Linked DNA regions of Homo sapiens: all the other regions are linked to region 2. Evidence: fine-mapped expression QTL. A gene starts in region 2. Each other region holds a variant in brackets. All regions are shown on one strand. Distances are between the middles of the regions.

Region 1 (5,148 bases), 140 kb after region 2:
GAATGAATAAGACCTACTATTTGATGGCATATAATAGGGTGACTATAGTCAATAATCATGTAATTGTCACTTGGAAATAATTAAAAGAGTGTAATTGTATTGTTTGTAACACCAAGGATAAATGCTTAAGGGGTGGATACCTCATTCTCCATGATGTGATTATTGTGCCTTGCATGCTTGTATTCAAAACATCTCATGCATGCCTACTGTGTATTCACAAAACTTAAAAACTGACAGAAAAGAAGTGGTCGGATTCAGGGTGTGCTTTACAGATACAGCTGATGGGATATGCTCATGGACTGAGTGTGGTGAAAGGGAGGAAGGAAGGATGACTGAGATTTGGGACCTGAGCAATTGATGGTTGGTGGTGCCAAAAACCAAGAAAGGCTGGAAGAGGGGCAGTTTGGGGTTTGGTGGTGGGGATCAGGAGCCCTATTTTGGCCATGTTAAATTTGGGATACCTATTTGACATCCAACTGGTTTAAATAAGAGTCTGGAGTCTGGGAAATGTCAGGACTGGATAAATAAATTTGGAAGCCATCAGTAGGTTGGTGGACAATGAGAGATGGGCAAGATGACCTCTGAGGGCCTTTGCAGCCTGTGTTTTCTTGTGCACCCAGAGCTCTCAGCCTGATAGTCTTTCCCTTATCACTCCTTCATGCCCAGAATTTGCCCCCATCCTTCCTTTTTGTTTTTCTGAGATGGAGTCTCGCTGTCGCCCAGGCTGGAGTGCAGTGGCGCGATCTCGGCTCACTGCAGGCTCTGTCCCCCTGAGTTCACGCCATTCTCCTGCCTCAGCCTCCTGAGTAGCTGGGACTACAGGCGCCCGCCACCTCGCCCGGCTAATTTTTTCTATTTTTAGTAGAGACGGGGTTTCACCGTGTTAGCCAGGATGGTCTCGATTTCCTGACCTAGTGATCCACCCGCCTTGGCCTCCCAAAGTGCTGGGATTACAGGCGTGAACCACCGCGCCCGGCCCCATCCTTCCTTTTCAAATGCTCCTTTCTCCAGGAAGCCTCCTGTAATCTTCCAAGATAAAAGTGACCTGCAGGCCCAGCGCGTTGGCTCATACCTGTAATCCCAGCACTTTGAGGGGCCAAAGCAGGCGGATCATCTGAGGTTGGGAGTTCAAGACCAGCCTGACCAACATGGAGAAACCCCGTCTCTACTAAAAATACAAAATTAGCCGGGCATGGTGATGCATGCCTGTAATCCCAGCTACTCGGGAGGTTGAGGCAGGAGAATCGCTTGAACCCAGGAGGCAGAGGTTGTGGTGAGCCAAGACCATGCCATTGTACTCCAGCCTGGGCAACAAGAGCAAAAATCCGTCTCAAAAAAAAAAAAAAAAAAAGTGACCTGCTTTCCTCTCCATGCCCGTCCTGTGCTTTTCTGTCATCTTCCTTTTTGTGTGACTGTGTCTTGCTACCCTCTTCCCTCCCTCAATGATAGCAACCAGTGTGGCACATAATGATTATGATTATTATTATTACTGAGACAGGGAGGCCCAGGCTGGAGTGTAATGGCACAAACACAACTCACTGCAGCCTTGACCTCCCAGGCTCAAGTGATTCTCCCTTCTCGGCCTCCCAATGTACCAGATTCTCAGGCGTGAGTCACACCTGGCCGACACATAATGAATACTTTTATTTTTTAATTTTTTACTTTTTAAAATTTTTGTTAGAGATGGGGTCTTGCTATGTTGACCAGGCTGGTCTCGAGCTCCTGGCCTCAAACGATTCTCCCATCTCGGCCTCCCAAAGTTCTGTGGTTACAGCCATGAGCCACTGTGTCCGGCCAATGAGTAGTTTTAAAAAGCCTATGCTGGCCGGGTGCGGTGGCTCACGCCTGTAATCCCAGCACTTTGGGAGGCCGAGGTGGGCAGATCACGAGGTCAGGAGATCGAGACCATCCTGGCTAACACGGTGAAACCCCGTCTCTACTAAAAATACAAAAAAAATTAGCCGGGCGTGGTGGCAGGCGCCTGTAGTCCCAGCTACTCAGGAGGCTGAGGCAGGAGAATGGCGTGAACCCCAGGGGATGGAGCCTGCAGTGAGCCAAGATCGTGCCACTGCACTCCAGCCTGGGCGACAGCGAGACTCTGTTTCAAAAAAAAAAAAAAAAAAAAAAAAAGCCTATGCTTTCGGAGGCAGTGGAGCATAGCGGTTAGTGGTGAAACAGCTTAGGCTCCAGGGCCAGACAGGATTAGGTTCAAATCTCAGCTCTATTATTTCCTCATTCAACTTCAAGACTGAGCTTTCTCATCTGGAAAATGGAGATTTAAAAAGGTACCCACCTACAGTCCACCCAACATATATGTGTGTGTGTATATACACAAATATATGAATGTATAATGTAGATAGGTGATATGGTTTGGTTGTGTCCCCACCCAAATCTCAACTTGAATTGTATCTCCCAGAATTCTCGCGTGTTGTGGGAGGGACCCAGGGAAAGGTAATTCAATCATGGGGGTCTATCTTTCCCGTGCTATTCTCGTGACAGTGAGTAAGTCTCACGAGATCTGATGCGTTTATCAGGGGTTTCTTCTTTTGCGTCTTCCTCATTTTTCTCTTGCTGCTGTCATGTAAGAAGTGTCTTTTGCCTCCCGCCATGCTGAGGCCTCCCCAGCCATGTGGAACTGTAAGTCCAATTAAACCTCTTTTTCTTCCCAGTTTCAGGTATGTCTTTGTCAGCAGTGTGAAAACGAACTAATACGATAGGTATAATAGAAAAGTATATGTTCAGCCAGGCATGGTGGCTCACACTTGTAATCCCAACACTTTGGGAAGCCAGGTGAGAGGATGGCTTAAGCCCAAGAGTTCAAGACCAGCCTGGGCGACAGAGCGAGACTCTGTCTCAAAAAAGAAAAAGAAAATTCACTGAGCTACACATTTATGATCTGTGGTGGGTTTTTGTTTTGTTTTGTTTTGTTTTTTGAGACAGGGTCTGGCTCTGTCGCCCAGGCTGGAGCGTAGCGGTGGGATCTCGGCTCACTGCAAGCTCCGCCTCCCAGGTTCACGACATTCTCCTGCCTCAGCCTCCCGAGTAGCTGGGACTACTGGCGCCCGCCACCACGCC[C/T]GGCTAATTTTTTGTATTTTTAGTAGAGACGGGGTTTCACCGTGTTAGCCAGGACGGTCTCGATCTCCTGACCTCGTGATCCGCCCGCCTCGGCCTCCCAAAGTGCTGGGATTATAGGCGTGAGCCACCACGCCCAGCCTGACCTGTGGTTTTTTCTATTATGTCTGGTTACTTTGGAAAAAGGGGGTTGCGTGTAAGGAGTAGCTCACAGTCCCTGGCATATAGTAAGTGTTCAGTAAGTGTTAACTACTCCAAGTGAATGAAAAAACTCATGACTTGCCCCCAAGTGAAATCCATTAAAAATCAGAACCATGGACAGATCAGAGCCTGTGCTCAGGGAGGGTTGAAGGAAAAACCTCAGGTCTGATATGGGGGACCTGAGGCAAGAAGGAATCTGAGAACTTTCCTCTTGGATTAGTGGTTCAGTGCCTTCTGGGGGCATTCCCATCCTGCAGGAGAGAGACTATTCCTTGGGGACTGTAAGTGTCTTTGTGTTCCTGCAGAAATGCATGCCATTTTAAAAGGTCTACAGCCCCGTTTTTCAAAGCAGAGAATGCTGAAGTCTCTCCAGAGAGGCCAGTCCTGCCTCCACTACATCCGACAGCGTACCCAGGCCCTTGCAAGCTTTCCTCCTTGTGTCTTGGCTTCTGTTTATCTGGTGAGGGGGCGGACAGGGAAGAGACTCCAGTCAGGGTAAAAATAACCTAGGACAGATCTCTCAATCATGCCAAGACTCCTGAGTCTGACTCCCTGGGGTGGGCCTGGACCCAGTGTCTACAACAGTTTTCATGGACGATTCTTGGGAACACTTGAGCCTCTAACAGCTTGGTCTTTTGAGTTAGATTCAAACACAAAACATAGCCAAAGAGAGCTCTTCTGAAGGATCTCTGTGGTTGGGGAGGGGACTCCCGGGTTAGTGGTTCACCTCCTTGCTGGGGTCCTCTGCTTCTGTCCTGTGACAGCCACCAACCGCAGGAATCGGCTCGTGTTACTAAAACTGCAAAAAGGCCTTCAAGGTCTGGGCTGAGCCTGGAAGGATTTGGAGGCCTCTTTGAGCAAACCTATCCCACCCCATCACCTCTTCAATCTCCACAAGGCTCATACCTGGATGGTCAATGGGTTTCACAGCCTTACTGTGAGTCAGACACCCAACACACAGAGAGGGAGTGGTAAACTGAAGACTGAATTACACTACCCTAAGGGTGGGGGCAGATCCCCCTGTCCCTACCCCCAGGGTTGCCTCTCTGAGTCAAGTCATTTCAATTCCCCATGGCCCCGTCAGACCAGTCTCTGGCTGGTCAGATTTTCTGAGCTGAGGCCCGTTGCCTGGCAGGTAATTGACCTGGGAAGCCCAAAGGGAGGTGGTAGGGGTTGGGGAGCCCCAGGTGCTGCAGGAAATGGAGCTGTTGATTAAGTGGCTCCTTCCCTCAGCCTTGGAGGCTGGGAAGCTGCACAGGCCCAAGAAGCAGCAGCAGCTCTCTAAGGAACAAGACCTGGTTCTGACCCTCTTGGGGAGATCATGGGTCTGCAGAGCATTTCCCTAAGAGCTTCAGGGGCTGGCTGTTAATGGGGGCCCTATTCCCAGCACTCAATTCTTCCTCAGTAGGTGCTAGGCTTCTTCCTAGGACAGGATTTGTTTTGTTCTCTGGGGCTCTCAGACTGAACTGCTTAGGGGGAGGAAAGCCAGTTACAGAATGTGACAATGTGACCAGGGCCCCTCTGAGAAGCCTTTCTGGGAGTCCCTGGGAGAAAGGGACCAGGAGAGGGCCGGGCATGGTAGCTCACACCTGTAATCCCAGCACTTTGGGAGGCCGAGGCAGGCGGATCACCTGAGATCAGGAGTTCCAGACCAGCCTGGCCAACATGGTGAACACCCGTCTCTACTAAAAATACAAAAATTAGCCGGGTGTGGTGGTGCACACTTGTAATCCCAGCTACTTGGGAGGCTGAGGCAGGAGAACTGCTTGAACCCAGGAGGCAGAGGTTGCAGTGAGTCGAGATTGTACCACTGCTCTCCAGCCTGGGCAACAGCGAGACTCCATCTCAAATAAATAAATAAATAGCCCAGGCACA
Region 2 (5,123 bases):
GGATCTTTGGGTCCCCCTCTAGGCCAACCCTTGCCCTCCTCCACTGGGTCAGGGAGGCCGAAATCAATCTCTGGAACAAAGAGATTGGGATTTGCAAGCACTGAGCACCTACCATATGCTGGGCTCTGCACTAAGGGCTCTATGTACTGAGCAGATTATCTCCATTTTGCTAAAACAGGTTGGGTCAAGCTAAGTGACTAATTCAAGATAACATCAACAGTAAATAAAGCCAAATTCAAACCCAGAACTGCCTGACTCCAAGCTGTGTTCTTAATTACAGTACATAGTCTGCTGGGGGGAAAGAAGGTCCAAGCTCTTGGGTTTTCTCTCTGTTGTTTACTTTCCCCCATATGGGGAAGACCTGATCTCAATAGTGTGGATGGATGAGTACCAGTGAACAACAGAAGGCTCCACTCCTCGGCTCTTCCTTGGGCATGAGACAGATGTAACCCAGAGGGATTGCAAAATGAGTCCTGAACCCACTGGAGAGTCCAGAGCCTCATGGGGGAGGCCAACCTCTGGGGAGGAGGTGATGCTCCGTGAAGCTTTCAAATCATCCCTAACCACCCAGCTCACCTCTGGGAGGCTGCCAGCCACTAGGGGTAGGATAATGTTCATGCTTTGGGGGATCTGGGATCCTGGTAGCCGGTAACAGGCGCTCCACAAACTGATATTCATCCACAGACTCCACAAACCTGGGGTAATCTGGAGGGCCCTGGGTCTGGCTCTGAAGCAAAACAAAAATCCCATTTCTCCATTAGCCTACCCAACACAGGATGGCATAACTTCAGTAAGTAGAGAATGGAAACATTACAGGCAGAGAGAATGACATAAATAAAAGGCTGGGCGACGGTGTGAAAGCTATCAGAATCAAAATGGAGTGAGTCACTTGGGTTAAAAATCCCAACAAATAGAGCTAGGGAGGGCCACGAAGAGAGAGTTCTTGGGCACAAATACTTAATAACAAGAACTACCACAAAAGACTGCAAAAACCACAGCCTTGCACAAAGGCCACTTCAACCTTACACAAAAAAATATTTCTGGCTGGGCAAGGTGGCTCACGCCTGTAATCCCAGCACCTTGGAGGCTGAGGCAGGAGGATCATCTAAGGTCAGGAGTTCAACACCAGCCTGGCCAACATGGCGAAACCCCATCTCTACTGAAAATACAAAAATTAGCCGGGCATGGTGGTGCATGCCTGTAATCCCAGCTACTTGGGAGGCTGAGGCAGGAGAATTGCTTGAACCCAGGAGGTGGAGGTTGCAGTGAGCTAAGATCGCACCATTGCACTCCAGCCTCGGTGACAGAGCGACGAGACTCTCTCAAACAAAACAAAACAAAACAAATTCCTGCATGGCCATCTGTCCAACAACTGCCTGTCCAATCTTGAACTGGCACCACCCATGTTATTCATCCTTGTAGCCAAGGATAACTGTCTCAAAACAATTATGTAATACTCATTTTTCCTTTCCTTTATTTATTTTTATTATTTTTTTAGATAGAGTCTCACTCTGTCACCTAGGCTGGAGTGCAGTGGTGTGATCTCGGCTCACTGCAACCTCCGCCTCCCAAGTTCAAGCAAGTCTCCTACCTCAGCCTCCCAAGTAGCTGGGACTACAGGCACACGCCATCACACCCGGCTAATTTTTGTATTTTTTCTAGAGACGGGTTTCACCATGTTGGCCAGGCTTGTCTCAAACTCCTGACTCCAGGTGATCTACGCGCCTTGGCCTCCCAAAGTGCTGGGATTACAGGCGTGAGCCACCGTGCCTGGCCCATTTTTCTGTTAAAAACCTTTGTCTTCTTTTACCTCCCTGATAAGCACATAGTCTATACCCATTCCCGAATAAATATCCTTTTCTTTTAGAGTCTGTTATTTAGGTTGACATAAGATAGCACCAGTCTTTGGTTTTCCATGGTGCAGGGTACAGATGGGATGGAAAGGAGGCTCAGGTACTCTGAATGGTCTGCCTCTCAGGATTTCTGTGGGATGCAAAAGAGTATATGTACACTTCTGAAAAGTCAATCAAGCCTTTAGAAACTTAAGGCTTAACTTTCTGTCTCGGTTTTAGAAATAGATATTATTATATTGGCAGCGTGGCCTTGTTTGTACCTCCATGATTGCCTGGCTGGCCTTGCTAACCTAATCACATCTGTGACGGGATATAGTGATGTTTAATCTTATGATTGCCTTAAGAATTAAGGCAATCAGACGGGTTCGGCGGCTCATGCCTGTAATCCCAGCACTTTGGGAGGCCGAGGCGGGCGGATCACGAGGTCAGAAGATCCAGTCCATCCTGGCTAACAAGGTGAAACCCCGTCTCTACTAAAAATACAAAAAATTAGCCGGGCATGGTGGCGGGAGCCTGTAGTCCCAGCTACTCGGGAGGCTGAGGCAGGAGGATGGCGTGAATCTGGGAGGCGGAGCTTGCAGTGGGCCGAGATCGCGCCACTGCCCTCCAGCCTGGGCGACAGAGCGAGACTCCGTCTCAAAAAAAAAAAAAAAAAGAATTAAGGCAATCATAATTCCCCACGCACACTCATATGCTAGGACCCCGCCCCTTACCTGAAACGTTGTGGCTTATATAGACACTGCCAGGCACTGTGTTAAGTGCTCCCAAAGAGCACCCCAGTCTACCATTTTCCCTCTCGATTCTATATGTACACTCGGGACAAGTTCTCCTGATCGAAAACGGCAAAACTAAGGCCCCAAGTAGGAATGCCTTAGTTTTCGGGGTTAACAATGATTAACACTGAGCCTCACACCCACGCGATGCCCTCAGCTCCTCGCTCAGCGCTCTCACCAACAGCCGTAGCCCGCAGCCCCGCTGGACACCGGTTCTCCATCCCCGCAGCGTAGCCCGGAACATGGTAGCTGCCATCTTTACCTGCTACGCCAGCCTTCTGTGCGCGCAACTGTCTGGTCCCGCCCCGTCCTGCGCGAGCTGCCTGCCCAGGCAGGTTCGCCGGTGCGAGCGTAAAGGGGCGGAGCTAGGACTGCCTTGGGCGGTACAAATAGCAGGGAACCGCGCGGTCGCTCAGCAGTGACGTGACACGCAGCCCACGGTCTGTACTGACGCGCCCTCGCTTCTTCCTCTTTCTCGACTCCATCTTCGCGGTAGCTGGGACCGCCGTTCAGGTAAGAATGGGGCCTTGGCTGGATCCGAAGGGCTTGTAGCAGGTTGGCTGCGGGGTCAGAAGGCGCGGGGGGAACCGAAGAACGGGGCCTGCTCCGTGGCCCTGCTCCAGTCCCTATCCGAACTCCTTGGGAGGCCTGGCCTTCCCCACGTGAGCCGCCGCGACCACCATCCCGTCGCGATCGTTTCTGGACCGCTTTCCACTCCCAAATCTCCTTTATCCCAGAGCATTTCTTGGCTTCTCTTACAAGCCGTCTTTTCTTTACTCAGTCGCCAATATGCAGCTCTTTGTCCGCGCCCAGGAGCTACACACCTTCGAGGTGACCGGCCAGGAAACGGTCGCCCAGATCAAGGTAAGGCTGCTTGGTGCGCCCTGGGTTCCATTTTCTTGTGCTCTTCACTCTCGCGGCCCGAGGGAACGCTTACGAGCCTTATCTTTCCCTGTAGGCTCATGTAGCCTCACTGGAGGGCATTGCCCCGGAAGATCAAGTCGTGCTCCTGGCAGGCGCGCCCCTGGAGGATGAGGCCACTCTGGGCCAGTGCGGGGTGGAGGCCCTGACTACCCTGGAAGTAGCAGGCCGCATGCTTGGAGGTGAGTGAGAGAGGAATGTTCTTTGAAGTACCGGTAAGCGTCTAGTGAGTGTGGGGTGCATAGTCCTGACAGCTGAGTGTCACACCTATGGTAATAGAGTACTTCTCACTGTCTTCAGTTCAGAGTGATTCTTCCTGTTTACATCCCTCATGTTGAACACAGACGTCCATGGGAGACTGAGCCAGAGTGTAGTTGTATTTCAGTCACATCACGAGATCCTAGTCTGGTTATCAGCTTCCACACTAAAATTAGGTCAGACCAGGGCCCCCAAAGTGCTCTATAAAATTAGAAGCTGGAAGATCCTGAAATGAAACTTAAGATTTCAAGGTCAAATATCTGCAACTTTGTTCTCATTACCTATTGGGCGCAGCTTCTCTTTAAAGGCTTGAATTGAGAAAAGAGGGGTTCTGCTGGGTGGCACCTTCTTGCTCTTACCTGCTGGTGCCTTCCTTTCCCACTACAGGTAAAGTCCATGGTTCCCTGGCCCGTGCTGGAAAAGTGAGAGGTCAGACTCCTAAGGTGAGTGAGAGTATTAGTGGTCATGGTGTTAGGACTTTTTTTCCTTTCACAGCTAAACCAAGTCCCTGGGCTCTTACTCGGTTTGCCTTCTCCCTCCCTGGAGATGAGCCTGAGGGAAGGGATGCTAGGTGTGGAAGACAGGAACCAGGGCCTGATTAACCTTCCCTTCTCCAGGTGGCCAAACAGGAGAAGAAGAAGAAGAAGACAGGTCGGGCTAAGCGGCGGATGCAGTACAACCGGCGCTTTGTCAACGTTGTGCCCACCTTTGGCAAGAAGAAGGGCCCCAATGCCAACTCTTAAGTCTTTTGTAATTCTGGCTTTCTCTAATAAAAAAGCCACTTAGTTCAGTCATCGCATTGTTTCATCTTTACTTGCAAGGCCTCAGGGAGAGGTGTGCTTCTCGGGTTGGTGGTATGTCCCCTAGGAGAACAGTGAGGCAGAAAAGGCAGAAGCCTTTGGTATGGGGGGAAGAAATGGTAAACTACAAGAGAAATTTCCTGTGAAGAAACAGCTACAGATCCTGGGGGGCTTCAGATGTAAAATTGGGGTTATTCCCTATCCTAAGTAACTTGATCAGTCCCCCCAGGTCATTCTTTTTCATCTTCTAAACAGAGAAGGTAGCAGGAATCACTGTGGTGAGAGGTTTGTTATGGAGGCAGCAATAGAAGGGATGGGTGGGGGAAGAGGTTTGTATAGAAGGTGAACCTGGCCGTTCCCTGAACTTGGTACCAGCTGTGGCCTTAGAGTCCAGGGCAGGAATCTGGTCTGCCTTGGTTTTAGAAGTAAATATTATGTTGGGAGCATGGCCTCGTTTGTACCTCTGTGACTGCCTGGCCGGACTTGGTAACCTAATCACATCTGTGATTGGATATAGT
Region 3 (5,148 bases), 110 kb before region 2:
CTCAGCTTTCCAAGTTGCCGGGATTACAGGCGCACACCACCACGCCCAGCTAATTTTGTATTTTTAGTAGAGATGGGGTTTTACTGCATTGACCAGGCTGGTCTCAAACTCCTGACCTCAAGTTATCTGCCCACCTCAGCCTCCCAAAGTGCTGGGATTACAGGCATGAGCCACTGCGCCTGGCCAAGAAAAAAAAAATTCTTATGTAAGGCGATAAGAAAAAAGATAACCCTGTAGAAACATTGGCAGAAGTCTTGGATAAGCATTTCATTAAAAAAAAGCCATCCAAAATACCAATAAGTTCATGCAAATATTTTTACATTCCTTAGACATCAGAGAAGTGCAAATTGGAAATCACAGTACAGTATCACTACACACTCACTATAATGGCTAAAATTAAATTACAGACAATACCAAGTGTTACTAGGGATGTGGAACAAGTTGAACTCATATGCTTCTAATGAGGGTGTGAATTGGTATAACCACTTTGGAAAACTGCTTGCTTCTATTACAGAGAAACACACCCATACTTTATGATCCAGCAGTTCCAATCCTAGGTATGTATCTGACAGAAACGCAAGCGTGGGCTCAGTGCAGTGGCTCACATCTGTAATCCCAGCACTTTGGGAGGCTGAAGTGGGAGGATTGCTTGAGCTTAGGAATTTGAGACCAGCCTGGGCGACATAGTGAGATCCTGTCTCCATATTTAAGGAAAGAAAGAAAGAGAGAAAAAGAAAGAAAGAAAGAAAGAAAGGAAGGAAGGAAGGAAGGAAGGAAGGAAGGAAGGAAGGAAAGGAAGGAAGGAAAGGAAGAAAGGAAGGATGGAAGGAAGGAAGGACAGACAAGTGTGTTTTTTCACCAAGAGAAATGTACAAGAATATTTATAGCAGCAGTATTTGTAACAGCCCAACCTGGGAAAAGCCCAATGTTCTTCAGCAATAAAATAGGTAGACTGGGCGCGGTGGCTCACGACTGTAATCCCAGCACTTCAGGAGGCCGAGATCTGCGGATCACAAGGTCAGGAGATTGAGACCATCCTGTCTCTACTAAAAATACAAAAAATTAGCCGGGCGTGGTGGCACGCGCCTGTAGTCCCAGCTACTCGGGAGGCTGAGGCAGAGAATTGCTTGAACCCAGGAGGCGGAGGAGGTTGCAGTGAGCTGAGATCGTGCCACTGCACTCCAGCCTGGGCAACAGGGCGAGACTCCGTCTCAGAAAAAAAAAAATTGGTAACGTTTCTGTATTAGTTTCCAATTGCTGCTGTAACAGATTACCACAAATTTAGTGCCATAGAACAACACAAATGTATTATCTTACACTTCTGGAAGTGAGAAGCCTAACGTGTGTTACTGAGCTAATGTCAGAGTGTGGGCAGGGCTGTGTTCCTTCTGAAGACTCCATGGGAGAATCTGTTTGCTTGCCTTTGCCAGCTTCTAGAGGCTGCCTGCATTCCTTGACTTGTGGCTCCTTCCTCTGTCTTCAAAGCCAGCAGCACACAGCGTCTCCAAAGGTCTCTCTCTCACTCTGACCTTCTTCTTCCACTTGTAGGGACCCTTGTGATCGTACTGGGCCCACTCAGATGATCCAGGGTAATCCTCCTTCAAGATCCTTAGTTACATCTGCAAAGTCCCTTTTGCCATAGAAGGTAACATATTTATAGATTCCAGGGATTAGGATGGGGACGAATGTTACTTATTGATTTCTAGTAATATATATACATTATATATAGACGTAGATATATTTTCTGGATATGGTTTTTTGTTGGATATTGGTTTCTGCAAGTATCTTATTCTACTGCATACCTTGCTTTTTAAAAATAATTTTTATTTTGTAATAAATATATATTTACAGAAAAGCTATAAAGATTCAAACATCTTTGGGGGTCATTATTCTGTCTACCACAAGTAGTATATTCGTACCATGGATTGTTATACACGAAGAAAGAACGAACTAAATTACATATGACAACATGAGTGCATCTCACAAACGGTATAAATTACAAAAACTATGTAGCTCAAGTTATATAAAGCCCAAAAACAGGCTAATGTAATCTGTGGCATTAGAAATAAGGATAGTGATTCCCATAGGGGAGGGTAATGACTGAAGAAGACATGGGGGGACGGGGTTTCTGGAGGCTGATCATGTTCTGTTTCTTGACCAGTGTGTTGATTAATGGGTGTGTACAGTTTGTGAGAATTTGTCAAGCTGAGCCTTGTGCATTTTTGCATGTGTGTTATACTTCAATAAAAAGTATATGTGGGCCACGTGCGGTGGCTCATGCCTGTAATCCCAGCATTTTGGGAGGCTGAGGCAGACAGATCCCTTCAGGTCAGGAGTT[C/T]GAGACCAGCCTGGCCCACATAGAGAAAACCCGTCTCTACTAAAAATACAAAAACTAGCTGGGCATGGTGGCACATACCTGTAGTCCCAGCTACTCAGGAGGCTGAGGCAGGAGAATTGCTTGAACACAGGAGACAGAGGTTGCGGTGAGCTGAGATGGCACTACTGCACTCCAGCCTGGGTGACAGAGTGAGACTCTGCCTTGAAAAAACAAAAACAAAAACAAAAACAAAAAAACAAATAAACCTGTATGTGGGAAGAAGAACTCCAAGATGGTCCATCAAATTCCTGGCCCGGGTGTACACAAACCTTCTCCCAGTTATTCAAACACTAATCTAGGTGTTGTGAAAGGATTTTGCAGATGTAATTAAGGTCCCAAATCACTTAACTTTAAAACAGAGATTTTTCTGGGAGGGCCTGATCTAATAACATGAGATTTAAATCTGGGTCTAGAGGTCAAAGACTGGGAGTTGGAGATTCAAAGCATGGGAGAGATTTGATATGAGGAAGATATTCCTTTGAGGTGGAGGAGGCCACTTAGCCAGGAATGTAGGTGGCTTTTATGAACAGCCTGTGAGGAAATGGAGACATAAATCCTACAGCTGCAAGCAGTTAAATCGAACCAACAATTGAAATGAACTTGGCTGTGAATTCTTCCCCAGAGCCTCCAGAAAGGAGGCTTCGTTTCAGCCTCCTAAGAGCCTGAGCAGAGAACCCAGCTGGCACTTCTGGCCTGCAGAATTGTAAGCTCATAAATGGGTGTTATTTTAAGCCACTAAATTATGGTGATTTGTTATAAGCAATATAAGACTATAACATTCACAAAAAATAAAGTGGCCATTGAGAAATTTGAGGGACACTCAGTCAAAAACCACCAGTTTTACATTCAGTTCTTTTGCTTGTTAACGTGTCTGCTCACCTAGGAGGAAAGAAGGGGGAAAGGCTCCTGAGAATGTGAGCTCTAGAAACGGAGTCTTCCCAGAGAGACTGGACCACGACTAGCCAGCATTGCCACTCAGGCGAGATTGGCAGTGGCAGGGAGAATGGACCAGACATTCTCTAAGATTCCTTTTCATCTTATAATTCTGTGGCTCACAATATTCTAAAATTCATTCATTCACTCATTGGTTCATTCACTCATCAAATATTTATTGCAAAGCTATCACATGCCGGAAGCTGGTTACATGTAATGTTGTAAAAGTTTTTACAGATGTGATTAAGTTATTAAAAAAACAAAAGCAGAAGAGGTAGAGTATTAATCCTTTTTTTTTTTTCTCTTGAGACACTCTGTCTCGCTCTGTTGCCCAGGCTGGAGTACAGTGGCGAGATCTTGGCTCACTGCAGCCTCTGTCTCCCGGGTTCAAGTGATTCGCCTGCCTCAGCCTCCTGAGTAGTTGGGACTACAGGTGCGTGCCACCACACCTGGCTAATTTTTATATTTTCAGTAGAGATGGAGTTTCACCATGTTGGACAGGCTGGTCTCGAACTCCTGACTCAAGTGATCCGCCCACCTCGGCCTCCCAAAGTGCTGGGATTACAGGCATGAGCCACCACACCCAGCCCCTATTAAATCCATTTCTATAAGAACGTGTGTGTGTGTGTGTGTGTAAGTATGTGGGTGTCATGTATGTACTAAGAGCTGCAAGGATACAAATTCATGCCTGACAGAAATGGGAGATGGGAGATGTTCAGAGGTGGAAGGGAGAGTAGGTTGAGAGGGACATGCACTTATGTACCTGATAACAGAAAACAACTCATATTCAGGCACTGTTCTACCTGCTTTACAGACTAATTTTCACAACAGCCTTATGTGGTAGGTTCTATTATGATGCCCATGTTACAAATGGAGAAACTGAGGCACAGAGCGGTTAAGTAACTTGTCAAGGATCACAAAGCCAGTAAGTGGCAGAGCTGAGATTCAAACCAAAGGAGTACGTTCGAGTCCTGCTTCTTAACCAATGAACTACACTGCCTGTTTCTGGATTGTTTGGGGAAAAAATGTTTTTAACAATGAGTATGCATGCTTCTCAGAATTTAGAAAAAAACTACAAGGTGGCTCAACCCTGTTATTCCAGCCCTTTGGGAGACCAAGGGGGAGGATCGCTTCAGTCCAGGAGTTCTAGACCAGCCTGGGCGACATTGCAAGACCCCACCCCATCTCTATTTTTAAAAATGAGCCCGGGCTTGGTGGCAGGCACCTGTAGTCCTAGCTACTACAGAGGCTGAGGTGGGAGGATCGTTTGAGCCTGGGAGGTCGAGGCCGCAGTGAGCTATGATTGTGCCACTGCACTGCAGCCTGGGTGCCCGAGCAAGACCTTGTCTTAAATCAATCAACCAGTAAAGAAAAAAATCCCAGTTAATTGAAGGCATTTACAATAGGGTTTGTGGAAGTTTGTGAAAGTTCACCAGTTCCTAACACTTCCTCTTTCTCCTCCCCCATCCTTTTTCGAACCCCAGGACTCCCCATCCCCACCTCACCCCAGACACACTGGTGAGGAAGGGGTCGGGGGGCGGGCAGGCTCACCGCCTCCCGCTCCCCAAAGCCAGGACTGTGCAGTTGATCCCAGGAGCGAGCCCGGCGCGGCTCCCTGCCGGCAGCGAAGCGAAACATTTGGACATGGCCCCGATTTTTCGGGTGCGGTTGGCAAGTCCCGGCGTGCGCGAACCAAACCTGCGGTTCCCGGGGCAGCTTTGAGCGGGTCGGGTCGGCTCCATAGGAGAATGGCCCCACCTGCAGGCAGAGAGCTCCGGATAGCTGCCGAGTCACTTTCTCAGCAAAAACGGGCTTTTGCTGTTTCCAGAAGGATCCAA
Region 4 (5,148 bases), 28 kb before region 2:
TTACACGGCTATTGGCTGGGGGGCCTCAGTTCCTCACCATGTGAACCTGTCCACAGGGCTGCTGAGTGTCTCATGACATGGCAGCTGGCTTCCCCAGAGCAAGAGATCCAAGAGACAGTGCAGACAGGAAGCCAAAGTGTGTTTGTGCCAGCTCTCCTAGGTCTCTCACCATCACTTTCATTGATTCTATTCTTTAGAAGTGAGTCACTAAGTCCAGTTTACATTCGCGGGAGGGGAGCGAGGTTCCATGTCTTGAAAGGAGGAGTATCAGGCCAGGCGCGGTGGCTCACACCTGTAATCCCAACACTTTGGGAGGCCAAGGCGGGCAGATCATGAGGTCAGGAGTTCAAGACCAGCCTGACCAACATGGTGAAACCCCATCTCTACTAAAAATACAAAAATCAGCCAGGCATGGTGGCACGCACCTGTAATCCTAGCTACTCAGGAGGCTGAGGCAGGAGAATCACTTGAATCTGGGAGGCAGAGGTTGCAGTGAGCCGAGATCGTGCCACTGCACTCCAGCCTGGGTGACAGAGCGAGACTCTGTCTAAAAAAGAAAGAAAGAAAGAAAGAAAGAAAGAGAGAGAGAAAGAAAGAGAGAGAGAAAGAAAGGAGGAGCATCTAGAATGCATGGACATTCCTAAAACCACCTCACCTGGGAGACTCAAGCCCTGGTTGAACCATCCTACTTGGTGCCTGTACTGGAATAAGAGGAAATCAGACAGCCAGAGGATTGTTTCACTTTCAACTCAGCTACAAAACTCCTTGGCCATTCATGTTCCCTGGCAATCACACTGCAGATGTCTAGAAACTTCGCATTTCCACTTTTTTTCTTACAAAAATGTCATTCAGAATCACATTTCCACTTTCTGAGGTAACTAATCACACCCTCTCCTCTCTCTGCAAAGCTCCAACATGACTTCTTTCCCTTTTTCTTTTTCTTTCTTTGCTTTGAGACAGGGTTTCACTGTCACCGAGGCTGTTTAGTGCAGTGGCTTGATCTCTGCTCACTGCAACCTCTGCCTCCTGGGCTCAAGCCATCCTCCCACCTCAGCCTCCTGAATAACTTGGACCACAGGTGCGTGCCACCAAGCCCAGCTAATTTTTTGTAGAGACAGGGTTTCGCCATGTTGCCCAGGCTGGTCTTGAACTCCTGGGCTCAAGCAATCTACCCCCCTTGGCCTCCCAAAATGCTGGGATTACAGGTGTGAGCCACTGCGCCCAGCCTCTTTCCCTTTTTCTTCTCCTCTATTTTACCTGAATCTGCACCTGTACACACTTTCTCTGCCTCCTCTCCTACTAGAATGGAACAGCCATCTTTCTCCTCCTTTCTTTTTTATTTTTATTTTTTTATACAGATAGGGTCTCACTATGTTGCCCAGGCTGGTCTCAAACTCCTGGGATCAGGTGATCCTCCCACCTCAGCCTCCCAAAGTGCTAGAATCATAGGCATGAGCCACCATGCCCAACCTCTCTCTTCCTTTCAAAGCTTCTGGGTCCTCCTCTTCTGCTCGACTCCTCTTCCTTCTTGATTTCTCAAAGTCATCACTTCTCTACACTTCTCTACGTGCTTCCTGGTTTATTTTTTGTCTTTAGTATTCTGTAAGCTTCATAAGGGAAGGGACTTTTTTCTATTTCATTTGCTAATACATTCATGACACTTAGAACAAGACCTGGTTCAAGGTGGGCACTGGATAAATACTTGGGTGAATAATAGAGTGAATGAATGGGAAGAGGGAAACTCCACCCATTCTAGCTGGAAGGAAAAATGAGGAGGCAGGAGGAGCAGGTGTGAGCGGTAGGAGAAAAGGTATGTGCCCTGAATTTCCTGCACTGGGCAGGAGTCTCATGAGGGTAGGTGTCTTTTTGCTCACCCTGGAATCCCAGCACCCAGCCCTGCACCTGGCACATACTGTGTGCTGATTGCCCAATCTGTACCTTAGTGCCCCAGCCCCTTTCTTTGTACTAGTCTTGGGTGATCCATGTTGCCCATGGATCTGTCCCCAGCCTGCCCCTCTATCCTACTTCCCTTTCTCAGATGCTCAGGCCAGCCTGAATTGAGTCCTAATGTG[G/A]CCTCACTGCCTGGCTGCCCGTGCCCTGGCAGAGGGAGGGGACATCAGCCTCCTGTCCCTGCTCTGCCCTCCGAGGACACCCAGACTCGAGACAACTGCCTAGGGTGGCAGCCTGCCAAGGGGCCTGAGGTGGCTGTTCCCTGGCTTTGCACAGAAACTGTTGGGAATGACTCAGCCCCGAGACACTGCTTCAATAGGAGGAAGAAGTCACCACAGGCCCTCACTGGAGGTGCAGCGCAGTGTCAGAGAAGTAGATAGAGTGCCTCCCGGCCACACGCCAGCAGGGTGACTCTGGCTGACTTTCTTAGCCTCTTCGAACATCTGTTTTCTTTTCTTATTTTTCTTCCTTTCTGTAACCTCAAGAATATCTGTTTTCTCAGTAATAAAATGACTAGTTGCCATGGGGATGAGAAAATGGACCTGTTACAAAGCGCGGGGGTTGAGAGAAGGGCCATGGGGCCACCCTGTCTGGGCTTAAGTCTTTTTTTTTTTTTTTTTTGAGAAGGAATCTCGCTCCGTCACCCAGGCTGGAGTGCAGTAGCGCAGTCTTGGCTCACTGCAACCTCCGTCTCCTGGATTCAAGCAATTCTCATGCCTCAGCCTTCCGAGTAGCTGGGACTACAGGCACCCACCCCCAATGCCTGGCTAATTTTTGTATTTTTAGTAGAGATGGGATTTCACCATGTTGCCCAGGCTGGTCTCGAACTCCCGACCTCAGGTGATCCCCCCACCCTTGCCCTCTCAAAGTGCCGGGATTACAGGCGTGAGGCACCGCACCCGACCTGGGCTTAAATCTTGACTTTGTCTTTCCCTATTAGTTGGGCAAACCTCAGGCAAGTTACTTAATCTCTCTGAGCCTCAGTTTCTTCATCTATGAAACCGATATGATAATAGTACCTGACTCAGGATTGACATAAAGGTTAAAACTGTAACTGCCCAACATTTATTATTCTCAGCCCTGCCCTGAAGGATGTCACAGACACAGAAGTGATTACAATGCAGGGTCATAGGGGCTGTGTTCACACAGGGACAAATGCTGTAGGCACCATGTGGTGGGGAGAGACTCACTCAGGTTCATGGCTGATGCTGGAAATGTGTAAGGGTGTGCACTAAGAATTTTCCAGACAAAGAAGAAAGGGAAAAGCATGCTACTTTATATAGGTTTGAGCAAAAGTGAAGATAGCTAGGCTGAAGAGGCAAGCAGAGTTTGGGGAATGAGACAAGTTAAGTTTGACCACAATACAAAGTGCATGATGAGGGCCGGGTAAGGTGGCTCATGCCTGTAGTCCCAGACTTTGGGAGGCTGAGGTGGGTGGATCACCTGAGGTCAGGAGTTCGAGACCAGCCTGGCCAACATATGAAATCCCATCTCTACTAAAAATACAAAAATTAACTGGGCATGGTGGCAGGTGCCTGTAATCCCAGCTACTCAGGAGGCTGAGGCAGGAGAATTGCTTAAACCCAGGAGGCGGAAGTTGTTGTAAGTCGAGATCACACCACTGCACTCTAGCGTGGTCGACAAGAGTGAGACTCCGTCTCAAAAATAAATAAATAACAAAGTGCATGATGAGGATTTGGTGGGGTTAGGAGGCAGGCTGGAAGCATATCATGCAGAAATCCAAATGCCCCCTTAGAAAGGCCTTTGTCAGATTAGCAAGCTCACACTTGTCACTGAGCATCTGTCTCAGCCTTCTCCCAGCTGGCTGCCTGGACCACAGAGGCTGGAACGGTAAAAAAAAAAAAAAAAAAAAAAAAAAAAAAAAAAAAAAAACCACACAAAACTTGAGTTACATATATTCCTTCTGGTTTTTTTTTTTTTTTTAAAAGACTGAGTTTCACTCTTGCTCCCCAGGCTGGGGTGCAGTGGTGTGATCTCGGCTCACTGCAATCTCTGTCTCCTGGGTTCAAGTGATTCTCCTGCCTCAGCCCCCCAAGTAGCTGGGATTACAGGCATGTGCCACCATGCCTGGCTAGTTTTTTATTTTTAGTAAAGATGGGGTTTCTTCATGTTGGTCAGGCTGGTCTTGAACTCCCGACTTCAGGTGATCCGCCCCCTTGGCCTCCCAAAGTGCAGGGATTATAGGTGAGAGCAACCGCACCCAGCCTCCTTCCACAGTTTCAATCATGTGAGACTTACATTTGGAACTAAGTGGAGTCGAGGGAGACAGGTAGCAGCCCTCGGGCACTCCTTCTGCTGGTGTGGTTCCAGCAGGGATAGTAAGGCTGGGCCCACTGCACTGTGGAGCTTTCCAGATTCTGGGCTTGCAGTTAGTGTCTCACCTGAGCAGCTGAGTATGCACTGCCTGTGACAATGCCACTCCAAGTAGATCTGCCAGGGACCCTTCCCAGGAAATTATTTATAACAATTCCAGCAGAGATGGCTTCTCATCCTCCTTGAAGCTACTGGACTCTGAGCCCCTGATTCTGCCACAGCTCATCACTCTAGACCTGTCAGGCTTAACACAATTCACTTATCCAACCATTCAATCATCCATCATCCACTTAGCCAATCCAGTCTTTTTTTTTTTTTTTTTTTTTTTTTTTTTTTTTTTTTTTTTTTTTTTTTGAGACAGAGTCTAACTCTGTCAGCCAGGCTGGAGTGCAGTGGCGCTATCTTGGCTCACTGCAACCTCGACTTCCTGGGTTCAAGTGATTCTTCTGCCTCAGCCTCCTGAGTAGCTGGGATTACAGGCACGCATCACCATACCTGGCTAATTTTTATATTTCTAGTAGATATGGGGTTTCATCCTGTTGGCCAGGCTGGTCTTGAACTCCTGACCTCACTCAGATGATCCACCTGCCTCGGCCTCCCAAAGTGCTGGGATTACAGGCGTGAGCCACCACGCTCAGCCCAATCATTTGTTGACTCACTTCTTCAACACTCCCTGAGTTCTTATTCTGTGGCAGGCCCTGGGTCTGGGGCCAAGAACAGGGAGTCAAATTAGATTAGGGCTGTGAAACAAGCCACTCTCAAACCTAGAGGCTTATGACAATACCAATCATTTATTTTCTTACCATTATGCAATTTGGGCAAGGCCTGGTTGAGACAGCTCTTCTTGTGCCTCCAGCTCCATCC

Alleles and levels. Positions count from the first base shown, and alleles are read on the strand shown. Sizes are in standard deviations (SD) of each study's normalised expression. Not every link is listed here.
As copies of C replace T in region 3, the expression in fibroblasts of the gene that starts at base 2,908 in region 2 goes up (moderate effect, 0.59 SD a copy in GTEx).

What was found. PIP is the estimated chance that this variant, and not a neighbour inherited with it, causes the effect.
Region 1: its variant is fine-mapped to the expression of MRPL49 in whole blood (INTERVAL, PIP above 0.99).
Region 3: its variant is fine-mapped to the expression of MRPL49 in fibroblasts (GTEx, PIP above 0.99). The same link has a PIP of 0.9 or more in gastroesophageal junction and tibial artery.
Region 4: its variant is fine-mapped to the expression of MRPL49 in whole blood (INTERVAL, PIP above 0.99).

Annotation. Positions count from the first base shown.
Region 1 is chr11:64,976,089-64,981,236 of GRCh38, reverse strand. No RefSeq gene overlaps it. Among named protein-coding and RNA genes, the nearest start is that of MAJIN, 6.6 kb to the right of the region's middle. The variant C/T (reference allele first, on the strand shown) is at 3,076.
Region 2 is chr11:65,120,106-65,125,228 of GRCh38, reverse strand. It overlaps MRPL49 (mitochondrial ribosomal protein L49), which reads right to left and starts at 2,908. Exons shown (of 4, transcript NM_004927.4): 1 at 2,805-2,908; 2 at 577-727. The coding sequence starts at 2,882. FAU (FAU ubiquitin like and ribosomal protein S30 fusion) reads left to right here and starts at 3,095. Exons shown (of 5, transcript NM_001997.5): 1 at 3,095-3,139; 2 at 3,408-3,490; 3 at 3,585-3,729; 4 at 4,193-4,248; 5 at 4,423-4,599. The coding sequence starts at 3,416. The coding sequence ends at 4,548. RefSeq lists enhancers at 2,618-2,887, 3,048-3,137.
Region 3 is chr11:65,225,707-65,230,854 of GRCh38, reverse strand. It overlaps the pseudogene SLC22A20P. Among named protein-coding and RNA genes, the nearest start is that of POLA2, 34 kb to the left of the region's middle. RefSeq lists an enhancer at 4,786-4,985. The variant C/T (reference allele first, on the strand shown) is at 2,339.
Region 4 is chr11:65,147,965-65,153,112 of GRCh38, reverse strand. No RefSeq gene overlaps it. Among named protein-coding and RNA genes, the nearest start is that of SYVN1, 16 kb to the right of the region's middle. RefSeq lists a silencer at 220-399 and an enhancer at 2,308-2,357. The variant G/A (reference allele first, on the strand shown) is at 2,073.